Regions from separate parts of the Homo sapiens genome. Here all the other regions are linked to region 2. Evidence: fine-mapped QTL for protein levels in blood plasma. A gene starts in region 2. Each other region holds a variant in brackets. All regions are shown on one strand. Distances are from middle to middle.

Region 1 (10,438 bases), 57 kb before region 2:
CAGTTGCTTCAAATATCTTATCCTTTAACTCTGCAAGTTGCAAAGAGTGTGAGAATTTTGTGTGGAAGCCACATTTGCTTAATCCCCAAACCCACCCACCGCTATCACCACTATGCTGTCCTTGCCAATTAGCCAAGTATCTGTCTTTCCTCTCCTTTGCTTATTCCCCAGATCGTCAACTCCTTGAAGTCAGGAAATGTGTAGCTTTCTTCACTTTTATAACTCCAACACCTGGCGTAGTTTCTGGACTACAGTTACCATGTAATAAATGTTGGAAGAATAAAGGTTGGAAGGAGTTTGGTTTGACTGATAAAAACCAAGAAAAATATTTTTCATGAAGTTATCAGATGTCAAATTCTATTTAACACCGGTTTAAATAGAATTTGCAGACATGATCTGGAACTTTCTTTGTGGACTTGGCTCTCTGACACAAAACAAAACAAAAAATTTAAATGCAACTTTGGAAATCTCTAAACTCTTCTGAGGTCTGTGGCCAGGGGCACCAATGCAAGCCAGTTACGCTGTGGATTGCTGCAGTTCTCTAAAAGGAGGGGTGAATTTGGGCTAATTCTCACCAACTCCCTACCCTTGTGACCTTTGTTCTTCTCTACTTTCTACCCCACTGTGGCATGCTCTTTTTCGTAGGAGCTGATTTTATCCCAATGTTCTTTTTCAAAACTTCCTTTTATCTGGTGGTTGATATTGTAGCAATTGGCAAATCACATCTGTCGCTTCACAGCAAGTCTGATGCTCTGCCAGGTCACCTTGGACCACTATGTTTTTTTTTGAGATAGAGTTTCACTCTTGTCACCCAGGCTGGAATGCAATGGCACCATCTCGGCTCACTGCAACCTCTTTCTCCCATGTTCAAGCGAATTCTCCTGCCTCAGCCTCCTGAGTAGCTGGGATTACAGGCATCTGCCACCACGCCCAGCTAATTTTTTTGTACTTTTAGTAGAGACAGGGTTTCACCATGTTGGCCAGGCTGGTCTCAAACTCCTGACCTCAGGTGATCTGCCTTCCTCGGTTTTCCAGAGTGTTGGGATTACAGGGGTGAGCCACCACGCCTGGCCTGGACCACTATTTATTGCCACATCCAGTTCCACAAAGTTTATGCCCAAAGAGGTCACATGTACATTTTGATAGCTAGTTTTTTCTTATGCATGGTTGTGTCATAAAACCTTTCAGCTGAATGGGCTGCTCTGGTATTCTGGGTTTGGGATTTCTTTTAACAGTTTACTGCAGCAGCCATTCAATGTTACCTCCTACTCTGTAACCCTCCTCCTCATTTGAAATTCTCCTCTCTCTCACTGTTGACTTTGTAAACTCTACAGAAATAGGCAAACTTTGGTTTCAGAGGAGGGCTGGCCCTGGTGGGTAAAACTGGCACAAAGCTGAGTTTGATGAAACTGAAAGAAATATAGCACCAGTAAAAAGGCTTCAGCACACAGCAACCTGTACTTGCTTGACTCTCACAGTCCCACGGGAGACATACAGAGTGGGTGGGAAAGATCTGAGTTTGTCAGTTTGCTGGGGGTGGGGTTGAAAAAAAATTTGGGGTACTTTCCGTGGCTCATAAAACACAAGGTTTCACAGGCAGGAAATTGCCAAGAAGTTTGCTTTATCTTCTTTCCTAATTGCAAACTAGAAGAGGTAGCTTTACAACATCTCAAAATCCCCCAAGTGATTAGAGCACTGTATAAGCAATTGTAAGTCTTCCAAACTGAGCCAGAGAATAATGGCTAATGTTTATTGAGCACTTAACGGGTGCAGGCACTGTGGTAAGTGCATCACCTAATCTGGCTTATTGAAACCTCACGCCTACTCTGAATGATACTTGCATGGCCATCCTGGCTTTACAGGTGAGGAAACTAAGGTACAGAAAGAGTAAGCGACTCACTCCCTCACATGTCATACTACTGTCAACTGATGGGCAGGAAATAAGACTAGGAAACTTTCTTCAGATCCTGTAACCTCATCACTGAGGTGAACACAGTTGGCTCTTATCGTTGGAGGACACACTGACAACATATTAATAACACTGATTTCAGCTGACAGTTCTCTGAAGCTTCCAAGGCCTCAGAGTTACTGTCGCTGAGTAGTACTAAAACAAGTATCGCTTATTTATTCTACAAATGCTTGTTGAACACTTACTATCTGCTCTTCACTGGCAACTCACCATGCCAATGCAGTTATTGGTAACTAATTTTTATTGAGTTAAATTTTTCACATGCTTTATTTCATTTCATCCTTGCACATATTTAAGGTAGGTGCTGTTATTGTCAGCTAAAGAATTGAGTTGTATGGAGGTTAAGTATTTGTCGAGCACTGTTATCTACGCTGCTGCCATAAGTGGTGAAGCCAGGATTTGAACCCAGTTTGATATGACCCCAAAATTATTGTTTTAAAGACAAAGTAAAACTGTGGGTTATCCATATGGCATGAAATTGGGGAAATGGAAATAGGGGAAGGTACATGGAAGAAATGTCTGAACTACTGTACACTATTTTAAAAATTTCCTCAATACATTCTTACAAATAGGCTAGAGAATCTCCTATTCAACATCCTCATTTGCCATTTTTGCAGCTCCTGATTTATAGACCAAACATTCTGTTACTGTAGCGTGAAGTGTACAAACCTTCTGCTTCTGCAGCTCACCAACCACAGAGCCCAGGACTCTCTGCAGCTGGCTATTTTTCTCTTCTTTCAATCTTCAGGGACTAAACTTAGGGCTTAATGAGATGACATGAATGCACTCAATTCTGCAGGTGATCCATGTCAGAGCTAATGCACATTCATGTAAATGAAGATGGTCCTGGGAATCCAGAGAAGCCAGATGATTAAATTAAATGTTCCACATGTTTCCTTAAGAAGGAGTTTACAGTGACAATAAGATTTCTGAACCATGACAAACCTTCTATAGAAGAAGTTTCCAACAGTTTAGATTTGGCCATGTTATTCTGAAGCAAGTTAAGTAGGTTTTGCCATTGGGATGCAAGGCCGTGGGGTTCACTTTGAACTTGACATGCCACCTTGTGGAAATTGGAGGCAATAAAAAATGTGGCCATTGAATACTACTCTATAATAATTATATGATACAGGCTAACATTTATTAAGGGCTTACCATGTGCTATGCACTATGTGGAATACCTTTTAAGTGTTTTTTTTCATTTATTTTTCAAAACAATCTTATGAGGTAGGTACTATTGTTGTCCCATTTTAAAGACGAGGAATATGTGGCTTAGAAAGGTAATTGCCTGAAGTCCAATGCATACAAGGCAAAACAGATGTGAGTAGAAGGGTTAGAGGGTTACCTCATTGGGGCTTTTTTTTTTTCTGCAGAATTCTCTTGTGTGATCACTACTGTGTTCAAGTTCTCACCTTCTTCAAACTCACTCATGCACAGGTAAGGTTTTTTTGTTTTGTTTTGTTTTTGAGACGGGGTCTTGCTCTGTCACCCAGGCTGCAGTACGGTGGTGTGATCATAGCTTACTGCAGCCTCAAACTCCTGGGCTCAACTGATCATCCCACTTCAGTCTCTTGAGTAGCTGAGACTATAGGTGCACACTACCACACCCAGCTAATTTTTAAATTTTTCGTAGAGACAGAGTCTCCTGATGTTTCCTGGACTGGTCTCAAACCCCTGGGCTCAAGTGATCCTTCTGTCTCAGCCTCCCAACATGCTGGGATTAGAGGTGTGAGCCACTTTGCCCAGCCACAGATAAGTTTTAAAGTCCAGATGACCCGGATCTTAAGCCTTGGCTTTGCCACTGTGTAACCCTGGGCTGGATACCTAACCTGAGTCTCATTTTCCTCACTTGCAAAACAGGGGAAATATTGACACATGTAACCATGCTTTGTTTCAGAAAGTACTTAATACATAAGTGGTATAACAACTCTGAGGATGAATGAGATCTAAAATAAAGATTCACTGTATTAAATGCCTTTTATGTGCTGAGCACTGTTCTAATCTAAGCACTAGGCATTGAAAACTACAGTGGCCCTGGGATGGGATAAATTCTAAGGCAAAACAGTGGTTAAGAGCCTGGACACTGGAGTTGGACTACCTGGCTCTTACAGTGACAAGTTACTTAATTTCTCTAAGCTTCCATTTCCATTTCTATATCTGTGTTGGTATCTACATTGTAAGATGCCTTGAGGATTAACAAATTAAAATATACTACACTGTTTAACATAGTACCTAATACATAGTAAGCACTCTATGAGTATTAACATTGATTTATTGCTTCGTGATATACTTACTCACTAAATCACTTACACTAAAATCGTGAAGGCATACTTGACTGACACTTGGTAACTTTGAATACCATGTTTACTCAATTTTATCTCCCAAATATTTAAGTAGTTGTTTTCATTATCTCCTGCCATCATCTTAGTTATGACTGACATTTATAGTATTGATTACAGAACTAACTTGCCAAATGAGCTTCCTGACTCAAGCAATCCTCCCACCTCAGCCTCCCAAGTAGCTTGGACCACAGGCATGTGCCACCATGCCAGGCTAATTTTTGTATTTTTGGCAGAGACAGGGTCTCACTAGGTTGCCCAGGCTGGTCTCAAACTCCTGGGCTCAAGCAGTCCGCCTGCTAACCTCCCAAAGTGCTGAGATTACAGGCGTGAGCCACTGCACATGGCCAGTACGATCATTTCTATTCTGGTCCAGGAAAATAACTCTAACTGGAATTTTTTTCACTTTATCTATTTCATATCAGTCAAGGTATTTCATATTAGGTCCCACTCAAAGATGGCATGATGGATTCTTTAAATGCATAGTTTTGCCAACTCAAGAGAAAAGGAAACCTTAGAGGCTTGATTCTAAATGCCCATTCTGGGAAAGTAGTATTTAGCATGAAGCAACCATAATTCATGCTTGCCATTCAGACAGGAAGTGGTTAGATTAATCCTTCAGCAGATGTTTTCTGAAAGCTGAAATAACTTATCATGCATTACCACTCCTATAGCTTGATCACAACTACAAAGGGTAGGCCAGGGTCACATACATCTTCATCTTATTCCTTTCTTTCAAAAAAGTGTGATTAACAAGGTGATAAACTGAAGCAGTAACAGCTTCTATACAGAAACATGTTTTAAAATATTAGTTGTTGGCACCAGGCATCAAACAATGTTGGCAAGCTCTGAAAGCAAACAAAGAAATTACTTTTAACAAAAGCAACAATTTTTATTATCTTGCTTTATATTTAATGGAGTAGAACTATAAAGATTCTTAACTTTGAAAGCAGAAATATAAGTTGGATAGTAGTTGCAGATCTTTAATACCATTTTCAATTTCATTTATGAGCTGCTACATTATAAATGAGATGCTCTAAAATAATAATCGCTTTTGTTGTTGTTGTTATAGAACAATGAAAATTCCTGTTAGGAACACAAGTTGCTGTTTATATTTGCTTGTTCTCTTAAATAGTATGAGAAGAAGTAAGGTGGAGCTGTTGGGAAAGCCCATCGTGGACCTTTGGAGATTATCTTCTTGGTTCAGTCATCTCCACCACAGATTTTTAAGAGTGTGATTTCATAGTCTCCAGAAGTATCCGACTGCAAAGAATAAAATCAATGAAGAACAAATACAGTATAAATAATGGGAGACCATAAATGAATCAAATCCTATAGCACTAGGGAATTCACCTGGGTGTGAGACTCATGAGCTATACCATTTAGTAAAACATACCTGCAATTCCATCATTCATTCATACCTGAGTGTAATTACGTTCTGACCAGCATCTTCTTCACTGTAAGTAATATTTAGATTCTTCCTGATATACTGCAGTTAAATTTCAATTTTGGTTTAATAAAATAAGATTGCATCACTTACATAATATTGATTTCTATAAAAACTTCAAATTTTAGTTTTAATAATATTTATCGAACACTTGCTATTCAAAAGGCTTAATGTGTATTAACTACTTTAACCCTTTTAAAAGCTCTCTGCAATAGGTACTATACGTATCCCCCATTTAACAGATAAGTAAAATGAGAAAGACAGGTTAGGAAACTTGCCTCAAATCTTATCGAGAATAAGTGACAAAAGCAGGATTTGAATCCCTATATCCTGGCTCCTTAATACCCTGCTACACTGCCTAACTTAGGAAAGTGAAATGAACCACATTTTTAAAGAATATGTTTATCAGTTCCTTTTCCCAAGGCCAACCAAAAATA[G/T]ACTGTTGTCCAGAAAAGATACTACGTGAGGTTGAGGCTTAAAGGGCAAAGATACCAAGTTTGTAACGCAAAAGACTTCACAGGAGGTAAAACTTGGCTTTCAACCTGGATTGTGTAAGATGCTCACATTATTTTTATTTTATTTGAGGTAACCCAACCAGTGAGCTCTTCTTATCACTTAAGTTTCACATTTGGAATGGCTGTTACTGGGGTGAATATTAGAGAAAGTGGTAATATAAAGGAAGTCTCAGAGAAGGCTCATTTAGTGAAGAAGTTAAGCATTACTTTCATAGTAAGACACAATAGGCCTTTATATATATTTTTCTGTTTTCTTTATTTCTTGTTCATTTGTCTGTTTCACAAAATATATGACAATATTCTTCGTTTTTATATAGATTTTAGTTCTTATGCTATTGGTTTTCCTGTCTTGCTCTGCAATAGCAGAGCTGACAAGTCAACAATGCTCCAGCTTTGTATTAAAAGAGCTCCTTCTAGACATCTCTGATCAGAGTTGTAAACAATTAGGCGTTCTACCAGTTAGTCAAGAAAATACATCCAAGTAACTCAAAGTATATTTACACCGCTAATGACTTACTTGACCTCTCCACATGTCTTACATGGCTCAAAGACATCTCAAACTCAATACATGTAAAACCAAACTCATAAACCTCCCCCCACTCCCCCAAAAGAAAAGGAAACAAACAAACAAACAAACAACCTAAAACCTGATCCTCTTGCAAGGAATGGCGCCACTGTCTGTTTTCCAAGTTAGGAACTTGAGTGTCATCCTTGCTATCTTCCTTTCCTCACACCAAGATATTATACCAAGTCCCTTAAGTTTCAACTCCTAAATATCTTTTGAGCCCTTCTTATTCTCCAGAATAAGAAGATCTTACAGGGATCTTTTCATGATCCTGATACTAACTCTTCAAGAGCTCATGCCCAGAACTCTTCAATGGCTTCCCCTTACTCTTAAGCTAAAGCCAAAATTCCTTAAACATTGCCAAAAAGGTCCTGCATGATCTGGCCCCCACATCCTCATTTTTCATTATGCTTCCTCCACCATGAGGCCTTTCCATTTGTCATTTCTTTTATTAGAATGTTCTACTGGCTCCCTTACCTCCATACATTTTGCCTTATTAATATCTACTTATTTTCCAGATCTGAATCATGACTTTCTCATAGAAGCCTTTCCTCTAAGTCAAGTCCTACTATTGTAGGATCTTTTAGCACAATGTCACTTTCCTTTACATTTAACATAGTTGTAATTCCATAAGGGCAGAAAATGTCTTCCCCCACCCTACCCCCTTTGCTTATAATTGTAACCCTGAGCCTAGCACATAATATGCATTTGATAATATTTTTAATTGAATGAGTGAATTCGCTGATCTCAAAGCTCTCTTTCAACTGAACTCATCTTGCTACTTGGATTTTATTTCTCAATATTCCCCAAGGTAGACCCTCTAATCAAACAAATGCCTTATTACTTCTTTCCCTCTTGCTTCTTCCCATATCTGTCTCTAGAGCATTTACTTTTAAGACCCTATTGATCTGGGGTCTTAAAGGTAAATGCTCCAGCAGAGCACCTGGCCCACAGGAGACACTCAACACATGCTTGTTGACCTGAAAGGCAGGCTCAAGACCCATTTCTCTAACCCCAAACTTCTTTTCTTCTCAATTCCGATAGTACTAGCTCTATATTCAACAATCTAGTATTTAATTGTCTGTTGTTTCAATTATTATCTTCTAATTGTTTCTTCATACCTACCTCAAGTCTCCACATAGATTATGAGTTGATTGTGAGTGGCTACTATATTTTCCCATAAAAAGCTTGGAATTGTGCTATTTATTAAATAAATACAGAATTTGTCTATGAAGGAAAACTACCAAAAAATATAATTTCATCTAAATTTTCCATAATATCTTCTTATAAAGTAGTAAGAGGTACACATTGGTTTTTCACCTCTGTTCTTCCTTGCCTTCTCCTTCCCACCGGTTACCCCCTGAGAAAGGTGTCAATGGACAAAGAAATGTCTAAACAATAGGTGGAAGGAAGAAAACAGGCAGGATGACAGGCTGAGATGATATGCAAAATGGAACTCTATCCCATGAATTTCAGAAACAACCATCTAAAAAGATCCTGTTCTTCAATAGCAAAAATGTAATGAGATTACTTAATAATATGTGTTAGGTGGTAGAAATAAAGAAATCTTGTACTATTTCAAACTGCAAACTGAAGTTTTCAGTGATGGATTTTTCTTTTCTATCAAACTACAAATAGTTTAAATGTTTTCTAATACAATAAGCCTCAATTACCCAGACCACTGGGGAACGGAGAGCCACTGGTTAATTTAATTTTCTGGTTTGCTGAGGGTGAACTGAAAGCCCTCTTTATGTCTCAACCTTGTTACTGACAATCTTTAGAAAATGTGTGAGTCTATTTTTCTGCCTTAGTAGCTACAACATGGTTAATGTTATTGAATCTTCCTCTGATGATTGAAACTATTGTGATGTGTCAGGACTGATTCAAATAGAATTGAGTGTGAGCAGTTGATGCAATTTGTGCTAAGTCCCAGGCACAGTCTGAGAATTGCCTTTTTGAGTAAGTTCCTGATTTCAACTTATGCATGCATCTCAGCATCTCTTTCTGTAAAAGTTTAGTGCAAAAACAAAAACTCTGATTAAAAAGAGAGAGAGAGAGATTTTAGTGAATGAATCTAGTTGACTGATTGATGTTCATTCATTCATTCATTCATTCAAAGGCCATTTGTAAAGTCAGAGGCAGAAACCTTCCCAAGATAGCTGCAGAAAGACCCAGGCTAATATTTGTGCCTGTTCAAGGGTGGCTATTGTGGGTAGGGCCATAGCGAAGGTTGGACCAAAGACTCCAGCTGCTGGCAGGGACACTGGAATGTGGTCTAAGCCAGGTGTCCCCAGGGGACATCGCTGAGTGTAAGCTCCCCCACAGAGGTAGTGCTCCAGCCTTGTAGGGGCTTGAGAGAGGGTGCTGCTACCCAGGATCAGGATGTGCATGGTGCATAATGATCCACAGCTTAGGGGGTCTAATCAGCATGGACTCCATTCCCAGTTTTAGACCCTCAGCACTCAGAGCAAACACTCTGCTTGGCTGCTGCTTCCCTCTTCATCCTGGATCACCTTCTAGGCCCCAAGTCTCAGCTTAGACCTTGGAGAGTTCACCTGGGTCCAATACTCTCTAGTGCTGATTTCCTCGAGACATTCAAGGGTAGATGGAGTAGCAAAGAGACGGAGAGGTCTGCATAGCCTGCAAGTCCTCTGCGAAGGCAGCCCTGACTCTGTCTTTTCCCCTGGTCAGTGTGGCCTTGGAGGCAAGGACAGTGGATTGCTCCACTCACCAACCCCAGCTTCCACTTTGTTCCAGGGAACCAGCTTGGACTAACACTCTCTATCACTCATTTACTAGAGACTTTCATATGTGGTCTGGAGCATCAAGGTAGAAAAGTAAATCAATGGAAGGCTACTGAGCAGGTGTGGGGCTAGCCCCTTAGTTCTCCACTAACTAGTTGCCATCTTCCTGTTGGGACTATGACTTTTGAACCACGAGCTTAAGGTACAGAAGCCTCTTGTACAATTTTTGTCAGGCTTACTGCCCTATTAATTCAAATAATTTGTAATTTATTTGAAGTTTCTATGTATAATATATCAACTGAGATCTGAAAACAATGAAAATGGGTTTCATGCTTTAAAAGAGAAAGGAAGGAGCCCATTTTAGGAAGATTCTCATCCAGAATGAAAGAAACAGAAGGGACCAGATTTTTTAAAAACTAAAATACTGTGAAAGATTGATAAATTTAATTAAATAAGATGTGCAACCTCTGCTTGGAAAAAAATACTTTTGGCCAAGTCAAAGGACAAAGAACGGACTGGGAAAATATGACCAGACAAAAGGCTAATCTACCTTATGTGAAAAACGTCTTAGAAACTGACCAAAAAGAACAAAAACCCAAAAGAATGTGGACAAAGAATGTAAAAAGACAGATCACAGAAAGAGAAATACAAATGTTATTTCAAACATGAAAATATATTCAGCCTTACTTATACTAAGAAAAATGTATATTACAACTACACTGAGATACAATTCCTCACCTATCAGATTATGAAAACCCAAAAGTTTACCTATAGTCCCAGCTACTTGGAGGCTAAGGCAAGAGGACTGCTCGAGCCCAGGAGTTCTAGGCTACAATGTATTATGATCGCACCTGTGAAC
Region 2 (10,438 bases):
GCTTTGGATACCTCTTATCAATGAAATCATACAGTATTTTGTCTCTTTGGGACTGGCTTTTTCACTTAACATACTGGGCTCAAGGCTCACCCACATAGTAGCATGTGACAGGGTTTTCTTCCTCTCACACAACATGTGTTTTTAAAAGACTGAATAATATTCCATTGTGTGTGTGTACCGCATTTTGTTTATTCATTCTTCTGTCAATGGAAACTGGGCTGCTTCTACCTCTTGGCTATTGTAAAAAGTACTGCAGTGAACATGGGTGTATAGATACCTTTCTTTAAGATCCTGCTTTCATTTCCTTTGGATATATACCCAGAAATGGGATTGCTGGAGCATGTGGTAGTTCTAGTTTTAATTTTTTGGAGAATTGCTATCTTGTTTTCCATAGCAGTTCTGAGTTGTTCCTAATGTTTGCTCTCTGAGCCACTCATAAGTATTAGTTCTTTAATTGAGGGAGAGGAGGTAAACAGGAAAAAAAAAAAAAAAAAAAGAAAAACCCAGAGACAGTAGGAGCCCTTCTTTGGCTAGGGCCTCTTTCTCCACGTGTGGGTTTGCCCTCCAGGCTCAGGTTAGCCTCCTGTTTTTGGCCCCTCCCCACCTCTTTCCTGCTATCTGATGCCAAATGCTACCATCCCTGATGTAGCCATACTCCTAGCCCCTGTGGTAGGCAGAACAACAGCCTCCTAAAATGTATACATCATAATCCTTGGGAATTGTCAATGTATTGTGTTTCATGATGAAAGAGACTTTGCAAACATAATTAAGGTTCCAGACCTTAAAACACAGGGATTAGCCCGTGTTATCCAGGTGGGCCCAATTTAATCACACGCACCCTTAAAAGCAGAGAAATGTCTTCAGCTGGAGGGAGAAGAGAATGGCAGAAAAGAGATCCCCCAGAAAGAAAAGCCAAAGAGATTCCAAGCATAAGTAAGATTTGATGCATCATTGCTGGTTCTGAGATGCAGGGGCCACATACAAGGACAGGCAGAGACCTCCAGGAGCCAAAGACAGCTTCTGCTGGCAGCCAGCAAGCACTAAGAACTCAATTCGACAACTACAAGGAACTAAATTCTACCAACAACCTAAAAGGGCTTGGAAGAGGATTCTTCCCAAAGTCTCCAGAAAGGAATGCAGTCCCAACAACACCTTCATTTTAGTGCTGTGTGACCCATTTCAGGCTTCTAACATATAGAACTGTGAGATAATAAATGGATGTTGTTTTAAATTGCTAAATTTATGATAATTTGTCATAGTGCAATAGGAAATGAATACACCCTTGATCACACGCACTTGGGTCTCTCCTAGCCCTTCAGAAATGTGCCACGCCTTTGAAGGTGTCAGCAGGAGAGCCTGCCCAAATAATTCCATGTTAATTTACTCATGGGCGAGGGCCAGAGGGCGACTTTTTTTTTTAACACCAGCATTTTGGAGAGATGCTTTTTTCATCTGATTCTATGATATGTTCATAAAAGCAGCAGGGATTTCAGATGAAAGATGAGAGTTTAGCCTCCTAGCCAGTGAGAAGGGAGTAACTTGGGCCAAACAAAGCCTTCCAACAGCACACCTTCCATCCATACGCCAGGCCAAGGGATGGTCACATCTCTGCACAGGCTTTTCTTTAAACTTGCCCTCCACCTTACTTATAAAATATAATGTATGCTCATGATTAAAAAAAAAAATCAAACAGTACAGAAGGTGATATATTGAAAAGTAAAATTCCTTTCTCACAATTCCACCTTTCCACAAAGTTTTGATGTAATAGTCTTTCCGTAAATTTTTTATTTTCTTTGTTCTTTCTTTTAAACAGAATCCCTCTGTACATATTACTCTATAAGTTGATTTTTTAAATTATTACATCTTGGGACTTTTTTAATGTCAATTCACATACAGCTGATCCACTTTTTTCCCATTCATTTTAATGATCACATAAAAATGCCTGTAAGTTATAAATGAGTAATTTACTTATTCCTACCCTATCGATGGACATTTATGCTGTCTGCATGTTTGTTTTCATTAATACAAACAAATGTACTTGGGCCCCTATTTTTTCAACCTTATGCAAGTTTATCTATAAGATACATACCCACAAGTGGAATTACTGGGTTTAAAGGACATGTGCATTTAAGGACTGAGAGATATTGCCAAAATACTATCCAAAAGTGTACCAAATTTACTCTCCCATGAACAGAGAATAAAAATATCACCTTGCCACATCCTCTACATTACTTTTTTTTTTTAACCTTCACCAATCTCTTAAGTAGAAAAGTGTTTCTCATCATGATATTTATGTTTTTTTCAATTCTGAGATGCAGGAGTTTTTTTTTTTTAATAGATAGGGTTTCACTCTGTCACCCAAGCTGGAGTACAGTGGTATGAACATGGCTCACTGCAGCCTCCACCTCTTGGGCTTAAGCGATCTTACCACCTGAGCCTCCCAAGTATCTAGGACCATGGGTACACCCCACAACGTTCAGCTAATTTTTAAAGTTTTTTTTTTTTTTTTTTAAGAGACTGGGTCTTGCCATATTACCCATGCTGGTCTCGAACTTCTGGGCTCAAATGATCCTCCCATCTTGGCCTCCCAAAATGCTGGGATTATAGGTGTGAGCCACTGTGTCCAACCTTGTAGCACCTTCTGATGTTATTGGACATTTATAATTCTTTTTATGTCCTGTTTATGTCCCTTACAACTTTTTCTGTCAAGTTCATTTTTTAAACCAATTTATTCAAGTTATTTGTATGTTAAGGAAATAAGTCTTTTGTCTAATGTGCTGCAAATATTTTTTCCCTGCGAGCTGTCTTCTGCCTCTACCAATGGGATTGTTGGCTGTCATAGTGATAAACTTGTATGTAGTTAAAATAGATCAATATTTTTCTTTTAGGCGTTTGGTTTTGTGTCACAGTTGTAAGCATCTTCCCCACTCCAAGAATATTCTTCAATCCATTCATATTTCTTTCTCTTTTTCTATTTTTTTGAGACGGAGTCTCACTCTGTCTCTCAGGCTGGAGTGCAGTGGCATGATCTCAGCTCACTGCAACCTCTGCCTCCCAGGTTCAGGCGATTCTCCTGCCTCAGCCTCCTGAGTAGCTGGGATTACAGGCATCTGCCATCGCACCGGGCTATTTTTGTATTTCTAGTAGAGACACGGTTTCACCATGTTGGCCAGGCTGGTCTCAAACTCCTGGCTTTAGGTGATCCACCCACCTCGGCCTCCCAAAGTGCTAGGATTACAGGTGTGAGCCACCACACCCGGCCCATTCATATTTCATCTTCTTCATTTCTGTATTTTATCCACATGGAAGTTATTTTATTGTAAGGAGAAAAAGGAATACAGATTTACTTTTTCCCCAAACAGCTAGAAGTTTTCCTAACATTTATTGAATAATCCGTCTCTTCTTCTCTGATATGTCATCTTTTTCATATAATAAATTCCCAAATTATATACTAAATTTATTATCTGATTTTGACCTTTCCGCCTTGGTGTCATCATAAGTTATTTTAACTATGTAACTTTACAATGCATTTTTAAAAATATTTTATTATTTTTGACATCCTCTGGCTTTTCTAGCATGTTAATTTTGCCAGATAAACTTAAAAACTTTCCTAAAATTTTCCTTGCTATCTTGACCTTCTGTGTTTTGGTTTGACTCATATATGTTACTGTGTTGTGAAGGCTTAATTTTTACTTACCCAGATAGATGCCATGATATCCCACCTTTGCCTTGAGCTGAGATCACACTAATCTATTAAAAGAAAACAATTAGTAAATGGTATCAATATGTGATTCAGAACACAATAATCTTAGTCCAACCCTTAATCTTGAATCCAGAAAACAGATGTCAACATTCACAGAAAAACCTTCTCAGGAAGAGCATATATCTGACATTGGGTATCCCATTTGCTAAACAAACATTTACTGAGCATCTACCATATGCAAGGGACTGTGCTAGACCTGTGAGGACTTCAAGACAAGAGACAGAAAAAAATCTTTGTACTTAAGATGCTTACAAATATACTTCCTGAAAAGCCAATTTTTGACTTATTTAAAGTCCAGGAGAACTCTGCTGATTACTGACAGGCTACCACTACGGGGATCAATAACAACAAAAACACAGGATTTTACTCCTCCTCACCAAATCAACACAAAGTTTAGCTGCCTTCAGTTGGATTCCTTGTGCTTGATTGTGAAACTCCATGTACATTTTACAAGGCTCCAAGCCTACAGTCTGTTATAAAGACACATCTGCTCTTTGAGGAGGTGGTCCAGTCCTTGGTGGGGTGCAGAGGTGAAAGGCACAGTTCTTTGATTGGGAAGCCAGACACATTTTTCTTAAATAGATATTATTCAAACATGCTGGCATATCTCCAGGGTTGATTTAGAAATGCAAGTTGCTCCCACCCTTCCTGGGAACAAAATATTCTAAAAATTCCCTGACACCCCCAGAGAAAAGTTCAATGGGAAATTACACTATTAGTCTCTGGAAATATTTCACCTTGGTTTTTTCAGGCTCTCTGTAGCCTAGGGCAGTCAACTCTCCAGTTAGAGTCTAATACTGCATCTCTCTAAATACATGCTCTTTGACTTATGAGGGGTTACAGCCAGATAAACTATTCTGAAGTCTAAAAATCAGAAGTCAAACCATCTGTACAGTGAAAACAAGGCATTATTGGTTCTCATTTTGCCTCTTAAAGCTAAACACAATTTCTTTGGGCCTCAATTTCCTCATCTGTAAAAAGTGAAGAAGGGGGTGTTGCCAGCATTGAACGAGGTCAGTTTCACAGGGCTGGAGATTCTTCTTATCTGTGTGCACTGGTGCACGGTAGATATTTAAAAAAAAAACTTATTGATTAAATGAATGATTTAATACAAGCCGCACAATCATCCAGTGAGTTAGGTATTACATCTTCGTTTTGCATATGAAGAAGCTGGAGCCCAGAGAGGTATGGTAATGTCCCACAGTCACACAGCTAGTGAGTGGACCCCTACTGCATCTAGGCAGCTAGACTCTAAAGGTATGAACCTAACCCCCATGCTTCTGCCTTAATCTGCTGCCTGGCCCACACCTGACCAAATCTGACACTTAATATGCATTGATCCAGCAGAACTGGAAAATTATTAAGAATTATTACTAATCTATCATTTAACTTTTAAGATGTAAAGAATTACTCCACAGCGAAGGCCAAATGACTTAAACAGAATTTCAATATATCCTTTCCTGAAAGGGATTACATCATTTCCTTTTACTTCCTCCTCTACGGTTATTTCTAAACAGGTTTCTCTACACAACCACAGAGTTCTGGGAACAAGATTCTGGTTTTCTTTACATTTAAAAATTCCCTTTCTGGTCAGTCTGAAGTTTTCCGTCTTCGTGAAAACCAAAGGTGGTATCTTCATGGAGTAACGTTTTAATTAGTTACATTTTAAAAAATGATGTTGGTGAACATAGTAAATGTATCTTTCCCGGAGGGCAGGGTCTTGCTGTCAGTGCTGAACACAAATCCTTGGAAAGAATTCGGCCTGGGCTATGCAATTTCGTATCAGTAGCCAGAGGGGCCTCCAGCGACCCAGAACCTCCCAGCACCTGCATACTTTCCTATATATGGTCATCTGCAATCAAGTATCCAAATCTTCCACCTGGTGACTCAAATACCAAGGGAATGATTCATATCTAGTCAATAGGATTCTGTTGCAAAGAAAACGGTTAGTCTTTTCAGGAAAAAGCAAACTTCTTGAACTTCCAACCCTCAATATGCAAATCCACTGTTTTCTACCTTCTAAAAAAAATAAGTAAAATAAAATAAATTGCCTATGTGAGGGGGAGAAGATGCTCACAGGATGGGTGCGATTCCAAGTCCACAGAGCAGACCTCTGAGCCAGCCCCGTCTGCCATGCCGGGGACCCGAGGAACCTTCCGACTCCCAGCTTTTTTCTGTCCCCTAGACCTTTAGGACTGGGGAGGCCGAGATGGCTAAGTGGATCCCTTACGCTGCTAGCTGTAATAAGCGAAGCTTTCAGGGAGCGAGGACAGCTGAGTATCAGCTTGGGCCCCACCAAGACCTGGGTGACCCACCCATGGCACGGCACTTTCCCCCCCGTGGGCCCAGTCTCCTCGACTCTGAAATGCAGGACTGAGGTCCCTCCAGCTCCCCACCCACGCAGCTGGGTTGGGGCCGGGCGCGGGCGCCAGCCGCCAGCCCTGCCCAGGGTCGAGCTGCACTCGCGGGGGAACTGGGCGAGGCGCCGCGACCTCCCCAAGCCACCCGTCAGCAGGCGGCTGTGGGCGAGGCTCGCGGGGACGCGCCGGGAGGCTGAACTTACCCAAAGCGCGGTGGGGGAAACTGGTGTGCGAGTAAACTGCGAACAAACTGCGAGCGAAGGTGTCAGCCGCGGGCGCAGGTGCTCCGCGCTGGCTCCGGGTCCGGATCGCGACCGCACCCCTTCCTCCTGCCCCTCCTCCGGCCTCTCGACTCCACCTGATTGCGGCCCCAGGCCCCGGGAAAGGGAAGCCGCGCCCTGCTGCCGCCGGGCTCTATCCCTGTACACAGGCGCCCCAGCTCTGCTCCCTCACCGGTCTCTAAGCTTCCCCACCCTTTTCTCCCTACGCCCTCATTTCGCTCTCGGTTTCCACTACACCTTTACTTTCTCAAATGTACTGCAATGCTTATTTTGTTCTAGGCAGTGTGGATTCGGAGATTAGACTGTCCCTATACCTAAGGAACTCACTGCGTGGCATAGGTGGCGGACACCTAACATTAATAACATTGATCTGGCATTTACTTTGTACCAGGCACTGTTCTAACTTCTTTAAGAATATGCGCGGATTTATTAGGTTGGTGCAAAAGTAATTGCGGTTTTTGCCATTAAAATGGCTCCGACAACAACTCTATGAGGTAGATACTATTATCCCCATTTTATAGATGAGGAAATTGAGATACAGAGACGTTGGGTAACTTCAGCCAATTTACACAGAAGGTAAATGCCAGAGCTAGTGTTTGGAACCCAACTATTTCAGTAATTCCTCTACTAAACGTGTTGACCCTCTGGTATGAGGATTCCAACCAAAGGCTCAGGGAGACGGTAACCTGGAAGGGCATTCTAGGCATTTGGAAGAGCAAAACAAATCATCGAGGCTAAAAGGTTAAAGCCCTACTCGTATGAGGGAATTATGAGCAGTTGTGTGCTGAAGGATGTAGAAAAAGTTACCATGTATTGAGTATCAGGCATTGAAGTGCTTGAATACCTTACCTCTTTTATCTTCAAGGGAACTCTAGGAGGTGCTATTTTTATCACAATTTGCAGAAGAGAAAACTGAGGCTTAGAAAAGTGAAGTGATTTATCCGAGACCACGTAAGTAAAAAGTATTGCTTGCACTCAGTCATCACTGGGCCCCTTATGTATTCACCCGAAGGATTTGAAAACTTACCTCCACAAACACCTGCACATGGATGTTTATAGTAGCTTTACTCCTAAGTATCAAAAGTCGGAAGCAACCAAGATGTAATTCGTAGGTGAATGGATAAATAAACTGTGATACATCTATACAATAGAATTTTATTCAGCACTGAAAAGAAATTAGCTATCAAGCTATAAAAACACATGGAAGAAACTTAAATGCATATTATTAAGAGAAAGAAGCCCATTTGAAAATGCTACACACTATGATTCCAACTATATGACATTCCAGAAAAGGCAACACTACGGAGACAGTAAAAAAAATCACTGGTTTCTAGGAGTTGAGAGGAGGTAGGGTGAACAGGTGGAGCACAGAGGATTTTTAGAGGATAAGCATGGCTGGAGCTGCTTGAGTGTGAGTTGAAGAGATTACAGTCTTGGTCCTTAAGGCTGAGTCCTGGGACCTAGAAACTCATTAGAAATGCAAATTCCCTGAAACCCTGCGCCATCAAGTGATTCTGATGCATCCTAAAGTTTGAGAACCACTGGTTTAAGAGGAGCTACAACGGAGAAGGCAGAAGTGGTCATGCTTAAAAGGCCAGTGCCCTGGGAGCCCTCTCAGATCTACAAATCCGAAGTGATGGGCTTTCTGCAAGAGAGAAGATAGGATGGTGTTCTGCATTCTGTTCTGCATAGTAATTCCTGACTCCCATTCAGACTTCACCACAATAAACTGTTAAATCCCATGTTACCTCAAAAAATTCTGAGATTAGCATGAAATGGGGGAAAATATTTATTATTATTTGTGCCAGACACTGGGTAATGCACTTGACGTACGTGATCTATGTCATGCTTACCAACTAGCTGTAAATTAGGTATGATTGCCTCTATTTTGCAGATACAGACACAGGCTCAGAGGGACTCAGTAAGTTCTACGAGTTGTATTCCAGGCAACTAGGAAGTCATAGGGCTAGATTTATAGCCAGAAGAAAATGAGTAACAGGTGATGTTTTACATGTAGGCTTTATTTTAATTGTTTAAACCATTCAGGATTTAACTTCTTTGATTTCCTGATGGTAACTTTAACAAATGCACTTTTATCATTTTTTGAGTTTTTCTAGTTGTATCAACAGCCCAATTACCACCATTTATATTAGAAACATGCTATGGCATATTATAAAACTATTTTTTCCCCAAAGGATGAGTTTTCTTGGAAGGAAATATTAGAGGATGCTGTTAGAATCCAGGTTTATGGTTATCCAGAAAAAGAATTCAGAAAAGGTTATTTAATAAAAGTTTCATTATTCTGAATACACAGAACTTTACAGGTTAGTAAAAAGGGAATTTTCCTATAGCATCCTGATCAAAAGAACAATTTAACAGCCAAATACAAATTTTTAAAGCAAAGTTATTGAGATATATTTAGAACATATGGTAAAATGTGAAGGAAAGACCGACTACGTGATTGTGGCTGTTGAATACATAGCTGCTGTTACAGTGATGTGTTGGAGCTGGGTTATACCAGCATGTGAAAGCCAGTTCCTGAATTTTCAGTTATTTCACAGCCAGTATTAATGTAGACATTATTACAAGTTAAATAAATACAATTGAATAAATTACGTTAAAAGCAAAGGTAATAGGTACTCAAAATTAACCACTTCCTAATTATTTCACATTTTATTATTATTTTTTTTATTATTTATTTATTTATTTATTTATTTATTTATTTATTTTTTAATTGATCATTCTTGGGTGTTTCTCGCAGAGGGGGATTTGGCAGGGTCACAGGACAATAGTGGAGGGAAGGTCAGCAGATAAACAAGTGAACAAAGGTCTCTGGTTTTCCTAGGCAGAGGACCCTGCGGCCTTCCGCAGTGTTTGTGTCCCTGGGTACTTGAGATTAGGGAGTGGTGATGACTCTTAAGGAGCATGCTGCCTTCAAGCCTCTGTTTAACAAAGCACATCTTGCACCGCCCTTAATCCATTCAAACCTGAGTGGACACAGCACATGTTTCAGAGAGCACAGGGTTGGGGGTAAGGTCACAGATCAACAGGATCCCAAGACAGAAGAATTTTTCTTAGTACAGAACAAAATGAAAAGTCTCCCATGTCTACTTCTTTCCACACAGACACGGCAACCATCCGATTTCTCAATCCTTTCCCCACCTTTCCCCCCTTTCTATTCCACAAAACCGCCATTGTCATCATGGCCCGTTCTCAATGAGCTGTTGGGTACACCTCCCAGACAGGGTGGTGGCTGGGCAGAGGGGCTCCTCACTTCCCAGTAAGGGCAGCCGGGCAGAGGCGCCCCTCACCTCCCTGACGGGGCGGCTGGCCGGGCAGGGGGCTGACCCCCCCACCTCCCTCCCAGATGGGGCGGCTGGCCGGGCAGAGGGGCTCCTCACTTCCCAGTAGGGGCGGCCGGGCAGAGGCACCCCTCACCTCCCGGACGGGGCGGCTGGCCGGGCGGGGGGCTGACCCCCCACCTCCCTCCCAGACAAGGCGGCTGGCCGGGTGGGGGGCTAACCCCCACCTCCCTCCGGGACGGGGTGGCTGGCCTGGTGGGGGCTGACCCCCCACCTCCCTCCCGGACGGGGTGGCTGCCGGGCGGAGACGCTCCTCACTTCCCAGACGGGGTGGCTGCCGGGCAGAGGGGGTCCTCACTTCTCAGACAGGGCGGCTGCCGGGCGGAGGGGCTCCTCACTGCTCAGACGGGGCGGTTGCCAGGCAGAGGGTCTCCTCACTTCTCAGACGGGGCGGCCGGGCAAAGACGCTCCTCACATCCCAAACGGGGCGGCAGGGCAGAGGCGCTCCCCACATCTCAGACCATGGGCTGCCGGGCAGAGACGCTCCTCACTTCCTAGACGGGATGGCGGCCCGGAAGAGGCGCTCCTCACTTCCTAGATGGGATGGCGGCCGGGCAGAGACGCTCCTCACTTTCCAGACTGGGCAGCCAGGCAGAGGGGCTCCTCACATCCCAGACGATGGGCGGCCAGGCAGAGACGCTCCTCACTTCCCAGACGGGGTGGCGGCCGGGC
Region 3 (10,438 bases), 26 kb before region 2:
TTTATTATCGATTCACTTTAAGTAAGGGAGATTACCTTTCTCGGCAGACCTGATCCAATCAGTTGAAACGCCTTAAGACCAGAGGCAAGGCTTCTGTTTAGAAGATTCTTTCTGTGGACAGCAGCTTCAGCTTGTGCCCAAGAGTTCCAGCCTGCCTTTCCTGACAGCCTGCTCTACAGATTTTGAACTTGCCTAACCAGTCCCATAATCATGTAACCAATTCTTCTTTCTTCTTCTTCTTCTTCTTTTTTTTTTTTTTTCTGAGACAGCATCCCAGGCTGGAGTGCAGTGGCACGGTCATGGCTCATTGTAGCCTAGACCTGCTGGGCTTAAGTGATTCTCCCACCTCAGCCTCCCAAATAGCTGGGACTACAGGCATGAGCCACCATGCCTGGCTAATTTTTAAAAATTTTTTGTAGAGACAAGTTCTCACTATGTTGCTCAGTTTGAGGCTGGTTTTGAACTCCTGAGCCCAAGCAATCCTCCCACCATGGCCTCCAATTCTTTCCAATAAATTTTTGTTGTTGTTGTTTTGAGACAGGGTCTCACTGTCACCCAGACTGAAGTGCAGTGGCACAATCACAGCTCACTGCAGCCTTGACCTTCTGGGCTCAGGTGATCCTCCCACCACAGCCTCCCAAGTAGCTGGGACTACAGGAATGCACTACTATGCACAGCTAATTTTTTTTTTATTTTTTGTAGAGACAGGGTTTCTCCAAGTTGCCCAGGCTGATTTCAAACTCCTGAGCTCAAGCAATCTACCTACCTTGGCCTCCCAAAGTATTGGGATTACAGGCAAGAGCCACAGCACCTGGCCTTACAATAAATCTTTTAAAGTCTATGTCCTGCCTATTGGTTCTGCTTCTCTGAGGGAACCCTGACTGATATAAATAGAATTTTAAAAAGCCACAGAGTTAGACAGGAGCTGCACTATGTTGGGTGATGAAAGTCATGATAAGAAGCTTGGATTTTAAGCGTACAAAGCCATTGGAAATTTATGCAGGTAAGTAGCATAATCTGATTTTTAAAATAAATTAATAAAAATAATTTTGGCTATTCTGTGTAGAATGAATTTGAGATGGGCAAAAATGGAGGCAAAGGGACCAGTTAGAAGCCTATTGATATGGACCAGTCAAGAGATGATGGTGGTCAGACTAGAACAGTAGCAATGGATTTTGAGAGAAGTGCACATATTTATAATGGATTTTGAAGTAAAACTAAGGAACTTGCTGATAGATTTGGGAGCTTGGAAGGGTAAGAGAAAACAAGGGCTCAAGGATAATGCTAGGTTTTTAGCTTGAGTGTTGGGGTTAATCATAGTGCTATTTACTTTCAACGATGACAAATTAGAGAACTTGACTCTTCATGTCAAACAAAGGATATGACAAAATTCTTCCAGCCCAGGAACATTTGGGCTTAAGGTTCTATAGCTGTTGCCTATTTCAGAGTCATTCTACCACTGGGAGAGTCCAGACCAAAAGGGCATCCAAGTCCACCCATCACAAGTGTGCACTGCAAGAAAGTCACTATTTTTGATGACTTGGTCAAACCCTGGGCAGAAATGGCTTGTGGGGGGCTCATACCTTCATGGATTTCTTTAGCTGCTTTGCATCAAAGACTGCTGGTGGAGTCACTAGGGCCACCATGAGATGCTCAAAGTGGCCAGAGAGATCACCCTTCAAGTCATCTTTCAGCTCCTAAAATCAAAAAACCAAGGGGAAAAATGTGAAATACTTTTTTTCTCTTTCTCTAAAGTCACCTAGTGAAAGATGAACATATGTATCAAAATCAGACAAAACATGTCCATCCACAGGGAATAAACAGAAGTGTTGAAAATATTTCTATGAATATTAATCTGCATTTTCTAATTACTCCCAAATTGTTCTGTTTTGTAGAGGTTTTTTGAAGGAGAGCCAAATGGGAGGATTCCATGAGTGCCACAGTTAGGAACTGTATTCAAATGCATTTCCTAGATCCGCCATGCTTTCAATGCTTAGATTGGGGTAAGGGAAGAGGAAGAGGAACCCTTATAAATTCACGCCCAGCTTCAGTGGGAGGTGCTCTCTTCCTCGGTGTCTTGCCTCTCAGTAACTCCCAAAGAGCTCCAAGAGGAAGGGGAAGGGAGGACAGTGGCTGGTCATTTGTCTCTGGTGAGAATGTGGAACTAGGTGGCATCAGAAGCAATTTTCTGGCAACAAGTAAAGAAAAGAAAACCCTAAGTGTGGCAATACATTAGACTTATTTTTTCTGACAAATAATAATTGTACTTATTCATAAGGTACATAGTGATGTTTCAATACATATAATGTATGGTAATCAGATCAGGGTAATTGCATACCCATCATCTCAAACATGTAACATTTTTTTGTTTTAGGAATATTCAATATCCTCCTTCTAGCTATTTGAAACTATATTATTGTTAACTATAGTTATCCTACAGGGCGATGGAACACTAGAATTTAGCCTCTTACAGACATTACCTATTGATATTGTTTTGAGCACTGTTTTCACACCTAAGTACAGTCCATCTCCCCTGCTTAAAGGGGGGTAACAGGGTTTCTATTTTCAATATTCAATGGCATAATACTGAATAATGTTTGTTCCTGCTCCTGATTATTTTCAGCTCTGAAATAGAGGCTGGTAGCCTCTGAGCCTGCTGAAACGCTGTGGGCACAGATTGACACAACCACACTCCTGGGGGGTGCAGCAGTGGCATGTTCCTGCTGAAACAAATGGGGTGGCATTCAGTGTTATCAACTCTGCTTTAATTGCCACAGTGTTTTTTTCCTCTCTAAATGGTAAATTTCACTACCATCTGTCCTCAATCCAAGCCACTGCAGCTGAATCTTATTTCACAGCTCTCATCCTATTCCACTGTGAGAAATGGTTGTTCCCCTCCACCTCCATCTTTCTTCCATATTTTGGAAATACCAAAAGGCCAATAGATCATTCACCTTCTCTGTATGTGAAAGTGTTGTCTTGCCCTGAAGCTAGGCAATTCACTCAATTCAACAAATGTTTTCTGGGCACCTGCTCTGTGCTAGTCCTTTAAAGGTAAGTTAGACAAAGTCCTTATCCTAAGGCATTCTGCCCTCATGGGAAAAACAGAAATATTCAAAGATAAAATTTCAATATAATATGTTATCTGATAAAGGGAGCTCAGAGAAGGGTGTCTTAATGGAGCCTGGGGGCCTGGAGAACACTCCCAGGAGGTAATTCCTGAGGTGCCTGTGGATGGTCACTAGACCCTCTCAACAGTTGGCCGGGTCTGTTTGTACCTTTTCCCCCCACAGTTCATTATCTACAGCAGCCAAAATAATCCTTTAAAAATAAAAACTGCAGTATATTATTCCTCTGCTTACAAACCTCCAGTGGTTCCCTGTAGCCCTTAGAATAAAATCTAAACCCTACCAAGACCCAAGGCTTAGCATGTTCTCAACCTGTCTCCAGCCTCATCTCTTTCTTCTGCCCCCTTCACTTTCTACATTCCTGCCATATTGGAATTCTTTATTTCTCACATATTCCCAGTTTCTTTTTGCTTCAGGGCTTTTATATTTTCTGTACCTTAAATACTATCTCCTGATCAAGCAGGGCAGAACCCCTAGTATTGTTTAGGCTTAGTGGGGAGTGAGGTAACAACCCCTCACTGACATTCCTTCATCACTCTATCTGCAGGAGCCAGTCACCAGTCACTGTCTATCATATCAACCATTTTAATTCTTTCATATCACTTATCATATCTGAATTATTTTTATTTACTTGTTTATTATATTCTAATAGAATGTTAGCTCCATGAAAGAAGGCAGGATGTGCTTTTTATACCAGTCTATTTCCAATGTCTAGGATATCTCCTAACACAGATTAGTACTCAGAAATAGACATTGGACAAATAAACTGTATAGCAAAGACCAAGTCTTACTTTTACTTTTTCCTTTTTATTTTGTTTTTTGAGACGGAGTCTTGCTCTGTTTCCAGGCTGGATCAATCTCGGCTCACTGAAGACTCCGCCTCCCGGGTTCAAGCAATTCTCCTGCCTCAGCCCTCAGCCTCCCGAGTAGCTGAGATTACAGGCATGTGCCATCACACCAGGCTAATTTCAGTATTTTTAGTAGAAATGGGGTTACACCATGTTGGCCAGGCTGGTCTCAAACTCCTGATCTCAGGTGATCCACCCGCCTCAGCCTCCCAAAGTTACTTGTTCTTATATAGTTTCTGGTAATTACTAAATTTTCTTTGCTGAATGAATTAAACCTATAACTACATAAATATTTTAAAATTAAAAGAGAAATAAAAGGTTACCTAAGACAGAATTAGTCAGATAGTTTCCTTAGTAATTCTTTGTTGTGGAGGGCTGCCTTGCGCATTCTCAGATGCTTGTAGCATCCCTGACCTATGCCTACTACATGCTAGAAGTACTCCCCACCATCCTGTTTGTGATCATCAGAATGTCTCCATTCATCCCAAATGTCCCCTGGGGAGCAAAATCACTTCTGGTTTAGAACCCACTGGGCTAAGGCAAACCTTATCCTACAGGTGAAGAAACTGAGGCCCAGAAAGACCAAGTAACATGCCCAAAGCCAGTCAGCTAGTTCAAGGCAAAACCACGACTCAGATTCCAGGCTCCTGACTGGATGCACAGGGCATCTTCTGTTACACTCAGCCTGAAACAGAAGACTGTGGGCATAACCATGTGGGAGCGACCATGGTACATTAATGATCTCTTTACTGCCTGTCATGTTAATGTGACCTTACCTTTCCATATGCTGCTTGATATTCCTTAACAATCAGCTGC[C/T]GCTGTGCATTTGACCTCTCAGTCAGAATGCTGATGAGCATTTTCTCATCAGTTCCTAAATGAAACAAAAGTTATTTTACTCAATATTTATGCTCAACATTTGTCTTGAACAAAAGCAAAATGATCAATGGCCTGAGACAAATGCAGAGAGTAAGGCATTTTAATTTCTAGCATCTTATCTGGTTGGAATTTTATTTATTTATTTATTTATTTATTTATTTATTTATTTTGTTTGCCTGAGTTTTGGAAAAAAAAAGTTAACTTTATTTGGATAGTTTTGGGGGGAAGGAAACAATCATTGTCTAAATACTCCTTTCTGTACATCAGACAAAACAACCTACTACTTTTGAACTTGACTTTTTTACCTTTATGAGGTTTGGTTACTGTCTTATTGCCTTTTATCTCTCTCCCATACTTGATATCAAAATATTTCTTCCTCTGGAAAACAGGAACCAACACTTATTGAAAATCTGCCCTGCATGAAACACCCTTTTATTCATTGCCATAGTTAATATTCACAGGGGCCCGCTGTACTAAAGATGAAGACACGAACTTATCTTCCTTGCCAAAGTCACACAACTGCTGAGTGGTCCAGCAAGAAGTTGAACCCAAATCTCTGACCCCAAAACATATATTTCTATCTTTGGTCCACATCTCTCTCATGCATTTCTTCCACATCTCTCTCTCCCTCCCTCCCTCCCTTCCTTCTTTCCTCCCTCTCTCCCTCCTTCCCTCCCTCCCTCCCTCCCTTTCTCTCTCTCTCTCTCTCTCTCTCTCTCTCTCGCTCTCTCTCTCCCCTTCGCCCTTTCTCTCTCTCTCGTTGCCCAGGCTGCAGTGCAATGGCACGATCTCGGCTCACTGCAACCACCACCTCCCGGGTTCAAGCGATTCTCCTGCCTCAGTCTCCCAAGTAGCTGGGATTACAGGCATGTGCAATCATGCCCAGCTAATTTTTTTTTTAATTTAGTAGAGATGGGGTTTCACCATGTTGATCAGGCTGGTCTCGAACTCCTGACCTCAGGTGATCCACCCGCCTCAGCCTTCCAAAGTGCCGGGATTTCAGGGGTAAGCCACCGTACCCGGCCTCTCTCATAAATTTCAAACCCATATACAAAATGAATTGTTTGTAAGCAAAAGGTAACATCAGGCCAGAGCTGATGCTGGCCTGCCTAAGAATGACCTCAAGGTCATTCTTATCTTGGTGACTACAGTAGTAAGAAAAACGTGGAAAGTTGTGTCTAATTAATTTCCCAACCCACGATGATACCTGGTTTGGGAAGCTGTGAATTGGCTTGCAGGCCTAGAGCATGCATGACTAGAGAGGTATAAAAGAGCACCTGGAACTCAATGCTCAACTTCTTTGTGTCAAGGTGACCCTCACAGACCTCATCTACACACTTCCGTGGCAGTGGTACACAGCTTACATCAATGATGAAGCAAAAGCTTCTGTGTACTTGGTTAGCTGCTGGGCCTCCCAATGAAAGATGCTGCCTTTCTGTGTCTTTGGTTTTGTATTCTTACACATAGTTAAATAAATACCGAATCAGATTAAAGTGTATTTGTGCTCTGTGGGTCTGAGCACCAATTTGGTGCTGTGTATTGTACCCAGCATCTGTGTCAGTACACTACCGGCCACCACAACTGCACAAGTATCTGAAACTCAGCACATTCTGGGTGGAATTTATTGTATTTCCTCTCTGACTTGTCTTTCTTTTTATGTTCCCTCATCCACAACTATGGATATAGTCATCCAGGCAAAAACCCTGGGAATCATCTCAGATTCCTTTCTTTATCTTATTCTCTATATTATAGCAATTATCTGCATCTCTTAAATTTGTCGTCTCCTCTGCATGCCCTCTGCTCCTGTGTCCTTATCATATTTTACCTGGATAACCTAAATCACCTCCTAATGTGACTCCCATATAATTATTCCTGTAAACTACTGCCTAAGTAAATGTTTAAAAATACAATCTGATCATGTCACCCCCTTGGCTAAAATTCTAATGGCTCTTTGTAATCTTCAGGATGAAGTTTAAGCCCCTTAGCTCATGTATCAGCTCATTATGATCTCTCCTGCCTTATGTCTTTGTTCTCATTTTCTACCCCCTCTCTGCATCTCTATAACCTATGCACCTAGACTACAACTATACCAAACTACCTGCAGTTATGTGTAGTTTGTATGCCTGGCAGTTTCTCATCTCTTATTTTTAAACATGCCCAAGATCAAAAACTAAGCCAAGATGCCTCAGGTTCAGAGACTGTGTCTGACCCATCCCTAATGCAAACACCGTTATGATACCTCATTCTGAACTCAGAACCTATCAGAAGTGGTGCTCATAAACAATAACCTCCTTCTTAAAGAAGGCCTGTAAGCCAAAGTGCAAATTCATGAAGAAACATAATGTTTAAAAAGAGGTGACAGAATTTAAAGACTATTAACCTCATGAAACAGTCTATTCAACACTAGATATAAATAGGGCAATCAGGCTGGGTGCAGTGACTCACATCTATAATCCCAGGACTTTGGGAGGACAAGGCAGAAGGATTACTTGAGCCCAGGAGTCCAAGACTAGCGTGGGCAACATAGCAAGACCCTGTCACTACAGAAAATTTAAAAATTAGGTACACATTGTGATGAGCATCTGTAGTCCTAGCAACACCAGAGGCTGAGGCCATAGGATCCAGGAGTTTGAGGCTGCAGTGGGCTGTGATCATATCACTGCATTCGAGCCTAGGTGACAGAGCAAGCCCTTCTCTCTTAAAAAAAAAATAAGGAAATCAAGAGATAAATGAAGAAATAACTTACATTGAAAAATGGAAAAAATAAACCTCAAACAGGCAGAAAAAACATAATATTATATTGATATAAAGTTCTAATATAGTATATTTATTGAATTTGACAAGCTGATTTTAAAATTCATAGAGGAGGGCAAAGAGCCAAGAAAGACCTTGCCTGGTAGATATTTAGTGTCATTATAAAATCCTAATAATTGTGACAATGTGGTGTTGGGAGGGCCAAATAGATAAATGAAGCATAACAGAGAAGAGAAAAATAGGGAAGCATAAAACATAGGTGATATTACGTACAAATCAGTGTGAAAAGGAAGAGCTCTTCAATACATTGTTCTGGGACAATTAAATGTCCACATGAAATAGAATAAAATGAGACACCTTTAAATACCATCCATGAACACTAATTCCATGTAGATTTAAGATCATAATACGAAAAATAAAATTTCAAAACTTTGAAAAAAAAAGTAGGAGAATATCTAACTTTATGACTTCGTTATAGAAAAGATTCAATAAGCATAAATCCTGGACAAAAATATTGGTAAACTTGATTTCACTAAAATTTAAAACTTCTATGCAATAAAAATTACTGTAACCAATTGTATTAATCCATTTCACGTTGTTGATAAAGACATACCCTAGCCTGGGCAATTTATGAAGGAACTCTTTAATGGAGAACTCACAGTTCCATGTGGCTGGGGAAGCCTCACAATCATGGTGGAAGGGAAGGAGGAGAAGTCACATCTTACGTGGATGGTGGCAGGCAAGGAGAGAGCTTGTGCAGGGAAACTCCACCTTATAAAGCCATCAGATCTTGTGAGACTTATTCACTATCATGAGAACAGCACGGGAAAGACCTGTCCCCATGATTCAGTCATCTCCCACCAGGTCCCTCCCACAACACGTGGGAATTATGGAAGCTACAAGATGAGATTTGGGTGGGGACACAGGGCCAAACCATGTCACCAATGTTAAAAAAAAAACCATAAACTTATAGGAAATATTTTCATGGCTTGTAATATTTTTTAAAAAGTCTGTATTGAGGAATTATAAAAAAACTCTTGCCAATCATAAAGAAGACAAACCAACTGAAAAAAATAGATAAAATATATTTTATATTTTATTGACATATGAAAGTGGAAGCAGATGCACAAGTGAGGATGCTTAACTGCATCAGTCATTGGAGTAGAGACAGGAAACAAACACACATGCAGTATAAGATACTGTTTAGACACACTTAATTAGAAAAATGGAATAGTCTTACTATAGCAAGTGTTGGTGAGAATATGGAGCAAAAGGAAGTCTTGTACATTGCTGAAAGGAATGCTAATTTCTGCATTCATTTCAGAGAGCAGTATGGCAAAATTTCTAGTTGATTTGAAGAGAAGCATCCCCATCAATGTGGAAATTCCAGTTCTTGTCATATTCTAGAGAAATGCTAGCAAATATGCACAATGAGACATGAGAGGAATATTCATTGCAGCATTTTTATATTGCAATATAAAAGAATTGTAGGCAATTTAAATGTTCCATCAATATTCCCATCTTCTGATATAGTGATGCAATAGACTACCATGCAGTTAAAATTAATGCACTAGAGCTCACCATATCAACATGGATAAATCTCAAAAACATAATGTTAAGAGACAAAAACATATTGCAGAAGAATGTATACAGTATGATTTCATTTTATGCTGTTTGAGACCATGCATAACAATATGTACATGTATATGTAGTTATGGTATTAAAAGTTTCATGGGAATGAACTCTAATTTGGGATGGTGTTTATCTCTAGGGAAAGGGGCAAGAGTGAAATCCAGGAAGAACTGACGGGATTGTGTTGGGTTTTTTTGTTGTTGTTGTTTTGTTTTTGAAATAGACTCTCACTCTGTCATCGAGGCTGGAGTGCAGTGGCACAATCACAGCTCAGGGCAGCCTCAACCTCCCTGGCTCAAAGTATCCCCCTACCTCAGCCTCCCAAGTAGCTGGGATCACAAGCCCAAGCCACTAAGCCCAGCTAATTTTTTGAGTTTTTTTGTAGAGAAGGGCCCTCCTTATATTGCCAGGCTGGTGTTGAACTCCTGGGCTCTAGTGATCCTCCTGCCTCCCCCTCCCAAAGTGCTGGGATCACAGGCAGGAGCCACCATGCCCAACCAAGGGGGCCATATTTGTAATGATTTATTATGATAATTATTACTGTTGTTGGTGGCAGTGGTGGTGGTGGTTAGATAGGACTAATACAGGATGGTCACAGGAGAACAGAAAATTCCAGGCAGCAGTTTCACATGACTAGCAAAAGGAAACTGTTGAAATAGCTGCAGAAACTAGGGGCTGATATGACCCTGAAAACCCATAGTGTGGATCAAGCTGGCTAAGACCCACTGGACCCAACATGGCGCTGGATTTGACCTAGGATTCTCCTAGGATCTCATTATATGCTAATTAACATACTCAATCACACACCCACCAGTGCCATGGCAGTTCCGGAAACACCGACATTTGGTGTAAAAAGGGGTGGCACTACAGTTTCAAGAAATCACCTTTTTCCCAGAATCTTCATGACTATTCCACCCCTTGGTTAAAGAAACCCATAAAGGCAACAGCCCCAAACCCCCTTGTGCACGACTGTCTCTTGAGTACACTCACACTCCCCTTTCCTGAGTGTGTATTTTTCACTTTGCAATAAATCTCTGTGTTTTCAGTATTTTTTGACCCATCCTTGAATTTCTTCTCTAGATGGTGTCAAGAGTCTGGATACCAGCCAGGGTTGAGATTCCCCCGGCATTTGGGGATCTCCCCTAGACCACTAGTATCAGTGGTAATTTTTAATATTAAGTAAATATGATAAATGTTAAG

Direction of the effects. Positions count from the first base shown, and alleles are read on the strand shown. Strength reflects both the effect of a copy and how common the allele is. Not every link is listed here.
In carriers of allele T in region 1, the plasma level of the protein whose gene starts at base 6,416 in region 2 tends to be lower than with G alone (weak association).

What was found. PIP is the chance, under the fine-mapping model, that this variant and not a neighbour inherited with it causes the effect. Protein levels are from antibody-based Olink assays in UK Biobank. Linkage for the fine-mapping came from a reference panel and not from the study's own genotypes, which makes the PIPs less certain.
Region 1: its variant is fine-mapped to the plasma level of the ANXA3 protein (UK Biobank, PIP above 0.99).
Region 3: its variant is fine-mapped to the plasma level of the ANXA3 protein (UK Biobank, PIP above 0.99). The variant lies in the coding sequence of ANXA3. If it changes the protein, the assay may bind it differently, which can mimic a change of level.

What each region holds. Positions count from the first base shown.
Region 1 is chr4:78,605,189-78,615,626 of GRCh38, reverse strand. ANXA3 (annexin A3) reads right to left here. Exons shown (of 13, transcript NM_005139.3): 13 at 5,180-5,571. The coding sequence ends at 5,512. LOC124900721 (a long non-coding RNA gene) reads right to left here and starts at 834. Exons shown (of 2, transcript XR_007058152.1): 1 at 1-834. The variant G/T (reference allele first, on the strand shown) is at 6,193.
Region 2 is chr4:78,547,748-78,558,185 of GRCh38, reverse strand. ANXA3 (annexin A3) reads right to left here and starts at 6,416. Exons shown (of 13, transcript NM_005139.3): 1 at 6,327-6,416; 2 at 3,698-3,750. The coding sequence starts at 3,712. RefSeq lists enhancers at 4,797-5,996, 5,300-6,051.
Region 3 is chr4:78,573,436-78,583,873 of GRCh38, reverse strand. It overlaps ANXA3 (annexin A3), which reads right to left. Exons shown (of 13, transcript NM_005139.3): 4 at 4,753-4,847; 5 at 1,584-1,697. Among named protein-coding and RNA genes, the nearest start is that of ANXA3, 27 kb to the right of the region's middle. The variant C/T (reference allele first, on the strand shown) is at 4,793.